2 separate regions of the Homo sapiens genome follow, and region 1 is linked to region 2. Evidence: fine-mapped expression QTL. Tissue or cell type: whole blood. Region 2 holds a variant in brackets; the other region holds the start of a gene. All regions are shown on one strand. Distances are from middle to middle.

Region 1 (8,106 bases), 75 kb before region 2:
AATAAACACAGATAGCACGGTTGTTAGCCCAGAAAACTGAGTCAGAAGATCAGTCAACTATGTGAATGACTTTGACAAATCCTCCTGATCACAAATCCAACAGTACAGAAGTCAAGTTCTAGGCTGGGTGCAGTGCCTCACGCCTGTAATCCCAACACTTTGGGAGGCAGAGGTGGGTGGATCACTTGAGGTCAGAAGTTTGAGACCAGCCTGGCCTGGCCAACATGGTGAAACTTTGTCTCTACTAAAAGTACAAAAATTAGCTGGCGTGATGGCACGCTCCTGTGGTCGCAGATACTTGGGAGGCTGAGGCAAGAGCATCACTTGAACCCAGGAGGCGGAGATTGCAGTGAGCCCAGATCATGCCACTGCACTCCAGCCTGGGCAACAGAGTGAAACTCCATCTCAAAAAAACAGAAAACAAAAAACAAAAAACAAAAACAAGCAAAAAACCATGACCCTCCAACCCCCCAACAAAGATTCAGGTTCTAGTACTCTGCCACTGTGCAGAACTCAAGGGTTTGGAGTCACAGACCACAGAGGTCAAATACAGTTCCAATGCTTACTAGCCTTGTAATCTTATGACTTAATTTCTCTGAGCTTCAGTTTCTGCCTCTGAAAAATGGGAGCACATCATCTTATGGCATCATTGTGAGTATTAAAAAGCATAGTTAGCACCTATGACAGGATCTACTGCATTGTAAGTATTAAATAAATGGGATTTTTGCCTACTTTTCTCCCCATGTGATGGAAATAATACTTTCCCTGGGTTCCTGTTAGTATATTAAGAAAATTCCAAGGCTGGAATTATGCAACATTAAAATTAGAAGGAACCAAGGGCTGTCAATTTTACCTCTAAATCTTTTCTCGAAATCTTCCATTTCTTAGCATTTCTCCTAGTATCAAGCTGGTATAGGCTACCATCATCTCTCATCCTATTACAATGACCTCCTTCAAACCAGCCCTCAAAATCTCTATCTCTTCACCCTCTCCTCACTCCATTCTTGCATAGCAACAAGACACATGCTTAAAACTCTCTCATGTGCACTTAGAATAAAATCCAAACTTTATCATAGCCTTCAAGACCTGACACGGGCTGACTTGCCCAAATTTATATTTGCCACTTTCCCTCTTGCTCACTTCCCAGTACAATGTCCTTCTTTCAGAATTTTAGTAGTTACCCTCCTTGCCTCTGGGCTTTCCCATGTGCCTCTGTCATTTTGTCTCAAGGCATTCTGTAGGTCTTCATAGAACTCATAACCACTGTAATTAAATAATGAGGTTCATAGTTAGTTGTTTAATGTCTGTCTCCTGGATCATGTTCACCATTGTATCCCCAATACTTGGGACAGTGCCTGACACAGGGCAGGTATTCAATAAATATCTATTGAAGAGTAAATGAAGAGACATCTTGCCCAAATGCTTCATTTGTAGATTAGAAAGCTACAGTTAGGATACGCTACAGTTAGGATACAAGTGACTTGCCTAAGGCTGGAGCACCAAGAGTTCTTTTTTCCCAGGCCAATATTCTTTTTTTTTTTTTTTTTTTTTTTGAGACAGAGTCTCGCTCTGTCGCCCAGGCCGGACTGCGGACTGCAGTGGCGCAATCTCGGCTCACTGCAAGCTCCGCTTCCCGGGTTCACGCCATTCTCCTGCCTCAGCCTCCCGAGTAGCTGGGACTACAGGCGCCCGCCACCGCGCCCGGCTAATTTTTTGTATTTTTAGTAGAGACGGGGTTTCACCTTGTTAGCCAGGATGGTCTCGATCTCCTGACCTCATGATCCACCTGCCTTGGCCTCCCAAAGTGCTGGGATTACAGGCGTGAGCCACCGCGCCCGGCCTTCCCAGGCCAATATTCTTTTGCTCCACTTAACTCTGAGGTCCCTTCTACCTTTAACGTTCTGTTATCTCTGAAAATACAATAAAGTGTGAAAATATCTTACAGATGGAAGATACCTCTTTTTCGTTTTGTACAATACATTTGGCTCTATTTCCCACTCCCCCACCGGGCACTTTTATTATCCTGTTTCTCTGCTTCCTCCTAAAGTTAAATTTAACATATTTACTGCATAATCTAGTAGGTGAAGCAGATAATTCCTGTAAACAAGGAATCATATCCAATAAGGTAAATGCAAAGGCAAGATGAATGAAGCACAGAGAAAGTACAGCATAGGCTGTACTTTTTTGTGCAGGGAGTAGTAACGAAAAAAATTGTTGTGCAGGGAGTAGTAAAAAAGGAATCACAGAGATGATTAACTTGAGATAGCTTTTGAAGGATGATAGGCGTTTGCCAGGTGAAGGAAACATTCCAAGCAAGGGAAACAGCACGTGTACAGAGGCACTGCATCCATTCAACACATACTGAGTGCCTACCAGCAACTCCAAGCTGCTTTCTCTACGTGGGAAAATGCATAGGTCACTGAACTCCACAAATGGTAGTTGGTACTGCCACAGAGAAGAGGAAGCTGCAAATGTAGTGGAAAGCAAGGGTTAGATCAGAGCACCTTGTACGCCACGCTCAAAGGCACGTACTTTGATCTATAGAGATGGAAATCCACGGAAGACTTTTGAGCAAAGAAGTGACAACCTCTGATTTACATCTGTTTTGAGTTTCCACTCAGTTTGGATCACGCCCCAGATTCAATAAGGAAGACAGAAAAAATGCCTCGAGAATCTGCATAGGCCAAACACAACACACCAAACAGTCACACATGCGAACATACTAGGTATTTACAACAACTTGCTGAGATGGTTGGGCAGAACTCACTACCGCACAGTTAAAGAGAAAGCTTGGAAATAGTTACGTGACAAACGTTGAGGTGCCCAGGCCCGGCGCCCCAGGGTTCCCGGACACCGCCCGAGGCCTCCCCACCCTCCGGCACACACCCGCTCACCTCTGCAAGTTCTCGATCTCAGCCGGGATGCTCTGCAGTTGGTTGCCGCCCAGGCTCAGGGTCTGCAGCGCGCGCAGCTCTAAGAGCGAGGCAGGCACCTCCTGGAAACAGTTGCCGCTGAGGTTGAGCACCTGGAGGCTGCGGCAGAGCGGCGACTGGGCCAGGCCCTTGGGCAGCGCACTGGGCCCGCCGAGCCGGTTGTTCTTGGCCAGCAGCGTGCGCAGGCCGCGCAGAGCGAGCAGCTCCGGCCCGAGCGCGGTCAACGCGTTGCCGCTCACGTCCAGCAGCTGGAGGTGCGGGAAGCCGCTGCCCAGCGCCCGTGGCAGCGACACCAGACGGTTGTGAGGCAGCAGCAGCCGCAGCAGCGCCTCCCGCGCCCCGCGCCGCTCCTCCCCCCGCGCCTCCAGCTCAGACTCCAGCGTCTCGGTGGACACGCTGAGGCGGGACCAGTTCAGTTCGGCCTCCCCGGCCGTGACCACCGCTGCTCCGGCCTCCTCCATCCTGGCCACCGCACGGCGCGTGGCGCCGGATTCCCCAGAGCGCCGCGCGCGGTCCAGAGGCCGGGAGCTCTGCGGCGCCCCGGAACCTGAACCGAGGGCTGAGTCGGAAGTGGCGCGGGCGGGCGCAAACCCTGCGCGCCTTGGCCGAGTCACGCGACGCGAGTCCTGGGGTGCGCGCGCCGCTCCGGGGCGGGCTCTGCCTCACGAGGCGCGGGGCGCGGAGTGGCAAGAGCGCAGCATGGGCTGCGCAGAACTGAGGCAGACACCCAGAGGCTGCCAAATTGTCATCTGAGCCGGACCGGGTTTCGGCGGCCGCGCTTTATAGTCGCTGGAGCCTGGTGACCTATTCCAGGGCTACAAGACTGCCTCGGCAAACAGCCCAAGGATGTTCGGTTATCTCGCCTTGAGGGTTCGCGCGTCACGTGCCCCCCCCGTCCCCCGCTTGTTTTTCAGTTTAAAAGTGGGGCCCGTGTCTGCAGGACTCTGTGAGCACACAGTAATTTAGTGGTGATTTAGCTCCATGACAGAAAACCGCAGGAATTTAAAGTCCGAGGATTAACAAAGCCGACCTCGAAATGTGAACGCAGCTGGACTAGACCTCAGAACCCCCGGACCCTTACTGGAGGTTCCGCTGTTAAATAGCCTAGGGCAGGGATTTGATTTCAGTTGCCCCATGCATAAAATATGGGTAACACCCGCACTACTTGCCCCACAGAATTATTTTTTTCTTTTTTAAGGCAGAAATGTGTATCAAGTAAGGACGTTTTGCCCGTTTTAATTGTAGAAGCACATACGTGGCTTTTGGTGTAAGTTGTGTCTAGGAGTGAATTTGGGAGATATGGAGGCGGTTGCATGATTTGAGATAGCTCAAATTAATGAGTTAGTTTAAAAACTCAAAGCATAGAGTTTGTACTGCAGGTCAAAACTACAGTTTGGGAAAATCCTGATCTGGTACTAATTTAGTAATTCTAATTAACGTATTTTTCATCCTTGTCCCAAACTCAATCTTTTCTGAAATTACATTTTATGATTTTGAAAAGTAATGAATAGAAATGAGAAAAAATGCTTAGCTTTTTTTTTTTTTAACAAAGCTTATACATAAGAAAGTTAAGTGGTCGTGTATAATCAACGACATTAAATTGCTTTCCTCCTTAAAAAAGGAAAGTCGTTTTTTTCTTGCCAGTCATTTATTTGTATGAGAAACTATGCCTTTACTCTGCAGTCAAACTTTAATTTCTGATTGAGTGGTAGTCCTAGAAGGACGTACTTTGTATGTTTAAGCTAATGGTGGAATGCTTTTTAAAACTGATGAGTCATCTGTTTTGAAAGAGTCCTTTTAAGAACAGACCTTATTTTGGGTCAAGCCAGCATTCTAACAGTAGTCCTAATATCTGAAAATAACAAATATTTAAAATAATAGTTGTTTTTGCTTTAAAATATTTATCTTGGATTTTAAAAAGTGATAGGAACGTAATGTAAAATGAGAAAAAGAAAGGATTCAAACATAATTCAGAAATAAGAGTTGGCCAGGTGCCATGGCTCATGCCTGTAATCCCAGTGCTTTGGCCCAGGCCAGCAGATCGCTGAGGTCAGGAGTTCCAGACCAGCCTGGCCAACATGGGGAAACCCCGTCTCTACAAAAAATACAAAAATTAGCCGGGCCTAGTGGCGCTCGCCTGTGGTGCCAACTACTACACAGGCTGCTGGGAGGATTGTTTCAGCCTAAGAGGTAGAGGTTGCAGAGAGCCATGATTGTGCCACTGCCCTGCACTTTTTTTTTTTTTTGTCTCAAGAAAAATAAAATAAGAGGTAAGATTACAAATCAGTGGAATTAAAGGGAAAAAGATAACCTCAATAATAGCAAATGAGGCTTCCTAGTAGAAAGTTTGGAAAAAAATACTTAGTATGGGAACTCCACATTATATAGAATAAAGGAAAGGAAGTAGAAAAAAAGTGGTGTAGGTAAAGAAATGAGTAACCTGACAAATTTTGAAAACCTACTGCTTGCAACGCTGTACTAGGAGCTTTTAATTTAATAAAGTCTCCAACTATTTGGTTGTTGAATTTAGGATAAATGTAACCAGACCATTGAGCAGCTAAGATAACTGAGAAACTGCTTTCTAAAAGTTGAAAACTGTGTTTCTGCCTCATTGAAGCTATTGGCAAGGAAACTGTAAATTTCAGTGTAAAATGCACATCTCATGTCCAATTAGAGTAGGTTCCTACTTACATAGAATGACTATCTTTATTCATTTTTGGATTCTCCCTCACACCACCACCATCCCCCATTGCCTAGTATGATTTCTTGCAAATAATTTGGATTGACTGAGTTGGATATATCTCTTAGTTAGTGGACTTATTTTTTGAATAATTAGAGTAAATTGTAAAGTCCTTGAAAAGAACTGTCTTATTATTATATACCCATCCCCTAACAGTGCCTGCTCCACAGTAGGTACAGGTACTCTATATCTTTTGAAACACTGAATATATTTGTAAATATTAAGTTTTAGTTGAAAAGGAATTTTTATTTATCAAACACCTTTTATCACAAACCTTAAAAAATGTAATTCTACTTATCGCCACATTTATAAATAAGAATGTTTATCCGCATTTTAGAAATGAGGGAACTCAAGCTCAAAAATGATGAGTAAAGTCTGCTATCACAGAGAGTGAAAGGCTAATTAGAAATTCAGCCTTAGGGCTGTGTGGCTCCAAAGTCTATGTTCTTTCCACTACACTACACTGCTCTCTTGAGCTTAGTTTTTTTTGTTTTTTGTTTTAAATGATTCAAAGCAATAAGATCTTCCAAATAGTGTCAGTATTACAAGTGGCATCTATCCATTGATGGTACTTTGAAATATTGTGATTGTTGGAATTATACGGCACTTGTCTTAAGGATTGGGGGTTTTGTGGGCTTCATACACAAAACTGGAGCAGAGGCACCTGAACCAAACATAATTTGGGGTGCTGTCCTTGTATCATATGACGTCACTTTAGAACCTATGTTGATCGGAGCCATAGTGGACATCTGACCAAGGTAAGCCCATCAACAGACTGCCTGGTGGCCTGTCACTTATAAGGCACTGCCCAAACAGAAGCAGAGATTATTTTTTTTTCTCACTCGCCCAGGAATTTAATCCAAAGAACCCAGAGGGAAATTCCAGTTGGTGGCAGATCAGAAAGAAATTACAGTTGAATCAGAAAGAAGCAGACATGGGGAATGTCGCTAATTTTTTGTCAATTGTGAAACATAAGTGTGAAGATTCATAAAATATTGCTGCTGAAATCTAGGACTGCCTCATATCCAGAGTAACGCACCAGGTGCAGCTTCACTGAGGCCAACTTGTTAACAGCTGGATTAAATGTGAGCATCTTCTTACTGCCCAGTATAATAACCCTTCTCTATCTTAGCTAACGTGGATGTATCTCTTTTCACTGCAGCCAGATGGGTTTAAATGAAGCAGCATCCCCCAATCTTACAGTGGCCCTTGAAACCCTCCAGTCAGCCTGGAGAATACTGAAAACTTTCTGGGAGGTAAAAGAGCTGTGGTGGCTTGTGAACCCCCACAGTGATGGGGTTCATCTGTGGCTAGCTGAAAGAGATGCCTGAGAGGGGAGTGGAGGCACTGGAGAAGGTAAAGGACAGAGGAGACAACAGAATATGTTACATAGGGAAAGGAACATGGGTTACAGGGAACTGGGAAAGTACATGGCCTGTTTGTCCACTTATCAGAACTTCACCATTATGTCAGGCTTGGCCAATTGAATACATTTCAAGATAAGTCTCTTGACTGGAATAGTATTGGACATTTAGGAGACCAAATGAATTCTCCTCCTCCTTCAGCTACCCTTTCTAGGCTTCCTGAAGGCAGGAACTGCATCTGTTTACCATGGTATCCCCCAAGACATCGTAGGCAGCAAATAGTGAGTGAACGCAATAAATGCATGAATAGTTTTTGACATACCTTACTTAAATAGGCCCTATTGACCTACTGACTGCAGAAAAAACAAGAAATAATCTAAGTAGAGAATCCTTTCATAAACCATTCTAGTTAGGAGGCAGCATACTGATGCAGTTAAAAGAGTGGGCTTTGGTTTTTATCAGATACAGGTTTCAAAACCCACCTCTGGAAATCAGATTTCTCTTACTTAATCTTGATTTTGTTACTTAATTTCTGTAAGGCTTGATTTCATCATCTGTATTATAAAATATATTATCTGTTCCATAGGGTCATTGTAAGGTGAAAATCTAAAGTGCTTAGCATAGTACCTAGCACAAAGTCAATACTCTGTAAGTAGTGGCAATTATTATTATTAGCTGTAATAGTAGTTAATGTTATAACTATTGCTCTCTGCCACTTGTTATATCATGATCAGGGTAGAAAAACAAAGTTGAGAACAGTCTTTACTCATGATTGCACAATTTCCTACATAAACCATGGTCCTCTGCTCTGGGCCATTCTGTGTCTTAGGGATTAGGATTTGGGAGGTTGGTCTGACCTCTCTTGCCCAAGATTTATGCTTATTGTCTTTTTTGTCTTCAAGGTATATCAGGACCTCATGCCTGCTAAACCCACTCCTACCTTTATTTTAGCCACCTCTGATTCAGACTGTCCTTTCTAAAGCACTGCTTTCATGATTTCAACCCATCTCTTTTCCTCCTGCCTTTACCCCATGTTTCCTCATTGCTTATCAGATGAAGGCCAGTTGCT
Region 2 (8,106 bases):
TCATTTCACTAACATGAAGTGGGCCGGCTCTGTCCCCTCCATTCTTTTCCTCCTTCCAACTCTTTTAAAAAAGAACAGCTCTACTTATGCCAAGGTGGAATTTTGGCTCTACTTGCCACTATTCTGCGACAGAGTGGCTTTGTTGACGTGAGAAAGGCTCTCTTTGCTTTGCCAGAATTAGTCATGGAAACTTCACAGGAACACCAGGGCCCCTCAGATATACACAGAATACCATGGAGCTGGGGACAAAGGAATTCACAGAACTGGGGAGAGCAGGGGGAGGTCTGCAGTGGGGCGTATGGGGTGAGATGCTGGTTGCTCCCAGGCAGCTCTTCTGGAACCCAGTAGCACAGGCCTGAGAAAAGCAGAGAGAAAGAGCAAAACCGCTTCAGGACCTTGAAACCTTGCTGGAGTATCTCATGACCTTGTTCAAGTCTCTCTTTTTTTCTGGAAAGAAATGTGTTGGTACATCCTGCATATGCTATGGACAGAGGAGGAGGGACTGGTGATTTCTAGCAGTGGTTCTGATGTGTGTGGCAGGGGGCACTGCATGTGTGCAGTCCCTGCTATAAGTTTCCCTTCCTTATATGTGCTCACAATCAGTCCCTCATCTCAAGGTTAATGCACTAGGGCCAAACCCTGGTTTTGTGGGGCCTCAAGCTTAAATGGTTTAGGGAGGGCTAAAAAAATATACAATTATAAATGCAAATTGGGTAAATGGCCTTGCAAGACCCTTGCAAATAAAAGGTCTGAAATCAAAGCTTAATTAGCTTCATGGTAATCCAACTCCCCATTTGCCCTATTATTTTCTTCATAAACAAAATCTTTCCAATAATGGCTTTTGGGTCCTTAGTCTATTAGAGAGAGTCCTATTCAATATCTGATGCACATATGGCTTATCTCAAGTAGACTCTAAGAGCCTTGCACACTTCAGCTTCCCCCAGACCCACCACAGTGTACTGCCTGAGAAAATGCTCAACAAATGGTTTGTATATTAAATGTCATTTGGGGGTACAAAGTTTCGGTTATGCAAGATGAGTAATTTTTGGAGATCTAATGTACAGCATGGCGATGATAGTTAATAATACTGTTTGTATACTTTTAATTTGCTAAGAGGATAGATCATAAATTAAATTTTCTCAACATGCACACACACAAAATGGTAACTATGTAGAGGTAGTGAATATGTTAATTAGCTTGATTATGGTGAACATTTCACCATATATATGAATATTAAAACATTAAAACATTTGTACACCTTAAATATATGCAATTTTTATATGTCAGTGATATCTCAATAAAGCTGCTTAAAAATAAACAAAAATTATTTTAAAATGTCATTTACAGTCTCTTCAGGTTAGTGCAGCAGCCAACAGTGGCACTTCGGATGTTTTTGGGTCAGTATGGCCAGGCTCCATGACATCCAGATAAGAGATATATCGCCTGACGAAGATTAGCTTTAAGATTTAAAAAAATCTATTATGAAGCTGTCAATCAATAATTTTTTTTTTTTTTGAGATGGAGTCTCGCTCTGGTGCCAAGGCTGGAGTGCAGTGGCACAATCTCAGCTCACTGTAACTTCCACCTCCCGGGTTCAAGCGATTCTCCTGCCTCAGCCTTCCCAGTAGCTGAGATTACAGGCACACGCCCCCATGCCTGGCCAATTTTTGTATTTTTAGTAGAGATGGGGTTTCACCATGTTGGCCAGGCTGGTCTCGAATTCCTGATTGCAAGTGATCCACCTGCCTCGGCCTTCCGAAGTGCTGGGATTACAAGCCTAAGCCACTGTGCCCGGTCAATCAAGAATTATTTAATTACCCTTTGATTAATTTCTATGTTTAGCCTCTATCACAGCTTATGGGATATAACATGTTCCTTTTACTACTCATTGCGTATTGTGTGCCTGGAAATTACTATATTCAAATTTCAAATGGGACAGTGATGTTTACCTCCACCATTTTCTTTATTATTTTACAGATTCTGTCACATTCTCTATGTGTCTTTTCAGACTGAAGAATCTAGGTTGGCTCAGGCCACCTTCACACGGAAGCCTCTCTCCTTCACTGCTGCTCACATGTCATCTCTGGAATGCCTCATGCTGCCTATGCTTAGAGCTTTCTTGAGGTGGCCCAGACACAGCATAGCACACTAGATGCTTGGTTTCTATAGAATGATCGGTTCCTGTGTTCTGCAATGGTCTTGTCTAGTCATAGCAGAAGTATAGCAGTATAGTAAGCACTTACAGAGTTAGAAACATGTTAGGCCTGTTCATATAGGGCTGAAAATCATCTCACAAAGATCTGTGAGGCTCAGGGATTCATCCCTGTTTGCACTGAGGAGACTGTGACTTCAAGAGCTGGGCCATGACTGAGGTAAGAGTCAGACCCAGGTGGCTCCAACTCCGGTACTTGAGAGAGGTGCTTCTGTTCTCATGGTCCACAGTGACGAGTTGGAGAGTCTCCCCTGTGACATACCACACCGCCTTCTCAACACAGGAACACCCAGTGACTCCACTGCTACTGACAGGGTCTTTCGGGCTCCCCATTATGAAAGCAACACTCCTCAGAGTGATTCTTAGGAGTTCCCAAGATATCTTGTCACTCTTCCTAAAAAATGTTTTTGTAAGGCTGCCACTAGTTTCATAATTTCACCCTTCGGTTTCTTAGGAAAGTCCAAGTGGAAGTTTCTAATACAGACCATTTATCTGCCCTGAATTAGCTTGTTAGGTTTGAATATGGTTCTTATTTTCTCCTCTCCAATTGTCTACCTAAGACTTGTCCACTTTGAAGGCCAATGTAGAGAGTATAAATCCTCCAGTCTTCTTCAGTAATGGCCAAGGAAAATGATTTAAACCCATCAAAATGCTATTTGATGAATGCCTGTAACAGCAAAACAAAAAAAGAGAACGGTCTGTAATGAGCATGGCGCAAGCTCCGTGGCATAAACCCAAAAGGGAGGCCTGGGTGCAGTGGCTCAAGCCTGTCATTCCAGCACTTTGGGAGGCTGAGGTGGGAAGATTGCTTGAGCCCAGGAGTTTGAGGCTGCAGTGAGCTAGGATCATGCCACTGCACTCCAGCCTGGGTGACAGAGTGAGACCCTGTCTCTAAAAATAACAACAAAAAACCCAAAAAGGAGCAGAGGATGTGGCTGCCCCCACCACAGGAGTGTCTAACCTAGTTGAGCTGATGAAACAAGAATACAGGCCAATGCAGTCCTAAGTAATGGGGCCGACTCCAGGAGATGGGACTTCATAGAAGAGATGGGACTTGAGCCGAGCTCTTAAGAAAGGTAGGATGTGGATGGAAAATCTATAGGTTTTTGAGCAGGAGAGTGTTAAGAAAAAC[A/G]TTTGAACAGTGGCACATGGCAAGAAATGGGTAAGGCGGAATTGGGGGCAGGCAGAAGGATATCAGTTGGAACAGGCCTGGGGTGATGACAGTTGCATCTACACTAGTGGTGGCATGGTTATAGAAGGAAGGGATCCAAGAGAGATCTCTACAGAATAACGAGGTCTGGCAACATCCTGAATAGAGAGAGGAAGGAGAGAGTCTGGGGGGCTGCCAGATCTTTGGCTTCTAGGGCCTGGAGGGTTGGTTGTGTGTCTCTATCAGAAATGAAGTCTGGGAAAGGTGTCCCGTGAGGGTGGGGTGGGCAATGATGAGTCAGTTATGGACGCGTCTCAAGGACAGTGAAACATCCCACCGACAGCTGCCAATATTGGCTAAAGATGCATATCTGGGCGTCACCTGTGTAGGGGTGAGAAATTGAGGCAGAGGAACAAATGAGCTCAGGAGAAAAAGGTGGGCATGGAAGGCCGAGGGCGGCTAGGGCGTGGAAGGAAAAGGGGGAGCACAGACAGCAGGAAGAGCAGCCCACAAGGGGTCTCTGTGCAAATCAGAAAAGGCACCTTTCTCTCCAGGAGATGCAGCACATGGCCAGGGTATGGGGCTTGGCTAGCAGAGTGTAGTTTGGATTTCAGCCCCTGTCACCTCCTCATGCAGTCAACAGCCTGCACAATGGTATGAGAACTCTGACAGCAAAGCAGCCGAGAGTAGAGTAGGAACATTCAGAGAATTGGGAGGAAAACCAGGAAGCCTAGAGAGCTCCCAGAAATGGATGATGAATGCCATGTAAGAGAAATCATTTGGCAAATGTCGGGATAAAACAGCCAAAAAAAAAAAAAAGCTTTTAAACTTCTGCTGAAACCTGAACTAGTAACCTGGAGTGTAAGCCAGGCAGAGGCAGTGATGTCCTGTGTAAGAAGAATTAATGCAGGAGGACTGAAATGGGCCCTGGATATATCTCTGCCTCTAACATATGGTGTGACATGGGGCAAGGTGCTTGACCTCTCTGGGCCTCAGTTTCCTCAGCTATAAAATGCAGAGGTTATAGATGATGCCTAAGTCCCTTAAGCTGTAAGAATTCTATTAATTAGAAAGCTCAGGAATTTACCACTTCAGATGTTCCTGAATATCAAACTTCACTCTCCCAAGGAAGCTAACCTAAATGGCCAAACTAAAGAAAGTGGTTATGTATACAGTCACATGAGGGTGTTGCTAGGTTCTGAAGGGGGGATTAAAGTTGGCTCTCATAGTCAAAGGATTCTCATAAGCAATGCCTTTTCATTCCCTCCCAGATCATGGCAGAGGGAATCAGGGAAGCAGTAATGGAACCCCAATTGAGTGTCCTGATTTTGTTTCTAGTGAACTGGGTGGAACCCTCTACTCCCCTAGAATACTATTAATAAATTTTTTATTCTACTTGCATTTGCCTTGCAAGGAGAAAAGGGAAGAAAAGAAAGGAGAGAAAGGCTAAAGGAAATTCACATGCGATTCACAATTCTTCATTCCTGCCAAGAACCTGTCACTGAAGTATGTCTGGGGCTGCCAGGGCTCACATTTACTCAGCATTCATGCTCTAATTATTTCCACATGTAGTTCAAGGAAAATGGTTGATCAAAAGTTTAAAAAAAAAATTCCCACACACCTAAATCCCAGTACCTTCAAATCAAAGAAGGGAGAAAGCTCTAGGGCAGCTGTGGGAAAATTCTCAAGACAGGCAGTTTTAGAAGCATCCCCTGCAGTGCCTGCCACATCTGGGCCAACATCCCTACACATTCCCATCCCTCCATCCCATGCAAGCCCACCCTCCACCCACCCCCAGCTTCCCAAGCCCTGAACCCATTAGGATTTGCATTCTTTGGAGTTCCAAGTGGAATGTAGGATTTATTCCCCTGATATGGTGGAAGGCAGATGAGATGGATATCGCCTAAGAGGTATCTAGTTCTCCACTCCACCCATTTTTGCCTTGGGTGCCACTGAATTTAAGTAGTCCCTGGGTGGTTCCTGATACCACAGACCTGCTGGGAATAGAATCCACTGTGGCAGAGAGCTTGCTTGCTTCCCTGAGCTGGAACAGTACCCCCATCACTTCTGTGGCTGCTTTCCATTACCCCAATTTGCACATGATTCCCCCTAAACCTGCAAGCCAAGCCACTATTCTCGACGGTGGTCCACATGCCCTGGCACTGAGTTGGATGCCCGACACTGTCACCTACTGCCTTCTACCTGGGCACTGTTAACAAAGTCTTTGGCATATGGCACAGGGCGTTTTTCCTCTCTCCTGGGTGACTTCATTGTTCATGTAGCCTCGAGATCTGTGGGCTCCTCACTTCGAGCAACCCTCCACTTCTTAGGGACCCTGGATACTGAAAGCTTTGGGAAGTGTCTGTAAGCAGAGCAGGTAGCCACAGCAGATTTAAGCTGTAAGTGGACTAAAATTTAAAAAAAGGGTCTAGGGCTCCCAAGGCTCTATGTTTTGAAATGAGAACTCATTAGCCTTTGAAAATGTCAGCATGATGAGGAATTGTCAGATGCTTCTTTAACCTTCAGATAGGCAGAGAATGTCCCACAAGACCACCTAAAAAAATAATGTCACCATCTGGGAAGTCTGATTTGTTGTCTGGCTTGCCCAAATTCTCCCTGTCCTTCAAGGCTTGGGTCAAGTTACACCACTCCATCCTCAGTGACCTTTTACTTTCTACTGGTATGAATTCCCCCTTCCTTCTCTGAACTTTGATTCCTCTTTGTATGAACTCATTTTGATCATTTATTTTTTTAAAAACAGAACTGACTGTGTGGATTTTGTCTTTCTGGCTGAACTACAAGCTCCTAGAGGACAAAGATTCTGTTTGTCCATCCTTTTGTAGGACCTAGTATACCTTGTGCCACTCCATTAACCTTTGTTGAAAGCAAAAAAAGGTGGATTGAACCACACTGCCCTGGGGACTTGGGATAGGGACAGAGAGGAACAACACCTGTGCCAACTCCTTTCCTGGGGCTGCTCCCTCCCAGAACTGGTCTTCTTTGAGGAAATACCCTAAAGACCCTGCCCTCCACCACCAGGCCATATATATTCAGCCTGGAATTTCACTAATTAGAGATTGTCTTAGGCCCACAGAAAGACATTGAAGAGTGTGTTTGTGCATGTGTGTGCATGCATATGTGTGTTAATGAGGTAGAAGAGCAACGGAGGACGAAAATGGCTTTCAGTCATTTCCTTTGTCCACAGTTTAAATATTTAACCTAACTGAGACATGCTGAGAGAATGAGAATTTGGTGAAGAGGAAGATAAGGTAATGTGGGAATGTGGGGTATCTCAGAGCAAAGCAAAATTGGGTGAGATTTCTGAGTATAGGGTAGGGGCAGCCAAAGAGCTGCCTGATACCTTGGGGGCCTATACTAGGGGGAAGTAGAGATGAAGAGAAGCAAGTGAGAAGGCAGGAGAAACTGTGGAAATGGGCTTATTATCTGAGGCCAGTGCTTTGCGTGAACTCTTCTGAGGAACCCCGCCCTTACACTGTCTTCTGAGGTAGAGGGAGACAGGCTGGCCAACATTTCTAGACCAGGAAAAAAGCTTCTTGCCTTGCTCTACCCCTCCTCCACTCCCAAAATATTCTGGGGATCTCTAACTACTCCCCTCTGTCTCATCCACTAGGCTGACCTTGCAGTGGGCTGGAATACACTGAAACACGAGTTGCCGGGACAGCAAAGCCTTAGGTGTGCCCACGTGGTTTATCTCCCCTTGGATTGGGCACATTAGTAAGAACTGTGATGCCCAACCAAGAGGTGAGACCATCTGATACAATGGTGGAGGCTGGGGGGATAGTAGGGATGTCAGGGTTGACTGAAACAAAATGGATCTGGGAGACCCAGCATAGCAAAGTAGCACCAGTCTCCACTTTAAAAACAAGGACAGGCCGGGCACAGTGGCTCATACCTGTAATCCCAGCCCTCTGGGAGGCCTAGGCAGGTGGATCACTTGAGGACAGAAGTTTGAGACCAGCCTGGCCAACATGGTGAAACCCCCCTCTCCATTAAAAATACAAAAATTAGCTGGGTGTGGTGACTTGCACCTGTAAATCCAGCTACTCTGGAGGCTGAGGCACGAGAATCGCTTGAACCTGGAAGGCAGAGGTTGCAATGAGCCTAGATTGCACCACTGTCCTCCAGCCTGGGTAACGGAGTGAGACTCTGTCTCAGACAAAAAACAAACAGCAACAACAACAACAACAACAACAAAAAACAGGGACAAAGTCCTGGGAATCTCTGGGGGTAGTGTGGCTGCAAAGCAGTTAAGGTTCCAGCATCCTGGCAATTATTCTCTAGCCTAAGGATGCAGACAGGGTTAAAACCCAGCAAGAAACTCAAAGCTAAATGAAGTCTCCATATGTGTGGCTCAGTAGGGTTCTAGGAGAAGCAGACAGATGTAATTAGAAGTTCTCAGACATTGTGTTGCCACAGCAACTGCTGGCCAGGAAGAAAGTGGGGAAAACCTGGAGTCCGAGGAATACAGTCTTCCAAGGAAATGCCAGTGGTGTTCATCATGCTTGGGCTTCATGGCTGGCTCCTCCAGCTTGCCCACGCCCAGGCTCTAGAAGGCCCTCTCCCTCAAATTCCTCCTAATCCCCATTCCCACCCCTGGAGCAATTTCAAATGCACATCAAGGGCTCCCTTCAGAGGGCATCCAAAGGAAGGAATGAGGAACTCTCAGAGGAGAGTTTGTGCTGAAGAGTAATCTCTGGTCTCTGGGGCTTTCTGGAGCTGAGTG

Evidence for each region. PIP is the estimated chance that this variant, and not a neighbour inherited with it, causes the effect.
Region 1: it holds the start of LRRC58, and the variant in region 2 is fine-mapped to the expression of LRRC58 in whole blood (INTERVAL, PIP 0.98).

The regions. Positions count from the first base shown.
Region 1 is chr3:120,345,850-120,353,955 of GRCh38, forward strand. It overlaps LRRC58 (leucine rich repeat containing 58), which reads right to left and starts at 3,505. Exons shown (of 4, transcript NM_001099678.2): 1 at 2,895-3,505. The coding sequence starts at 3,394. It also overlaps the pseudogene BTNL12P. RefSeq lists an enhancer at 2,771-2,820 and a silencer at 3,171-3,500.
Region 2 is chr3:120,421,198-120,429,303 of GRCh38, forward strand. All of the region lies in intron 2 of FSTL1 (follistatin like 1), which reads right to left. It overlaps LOC124900546 (a long non-coding RNA gene), which reads right to left. Exons shown (of 2, transcript XR_007096030.1): 2 at 1-2,879. It also overlaps the pseudogene BTNL12P. Among named protein-coding and RNA genes, the nearest start is that of FSTL1, 26 kb to the right of the region's middle. The variant A/G (reference allele first, on the strand shown) is at 3,345.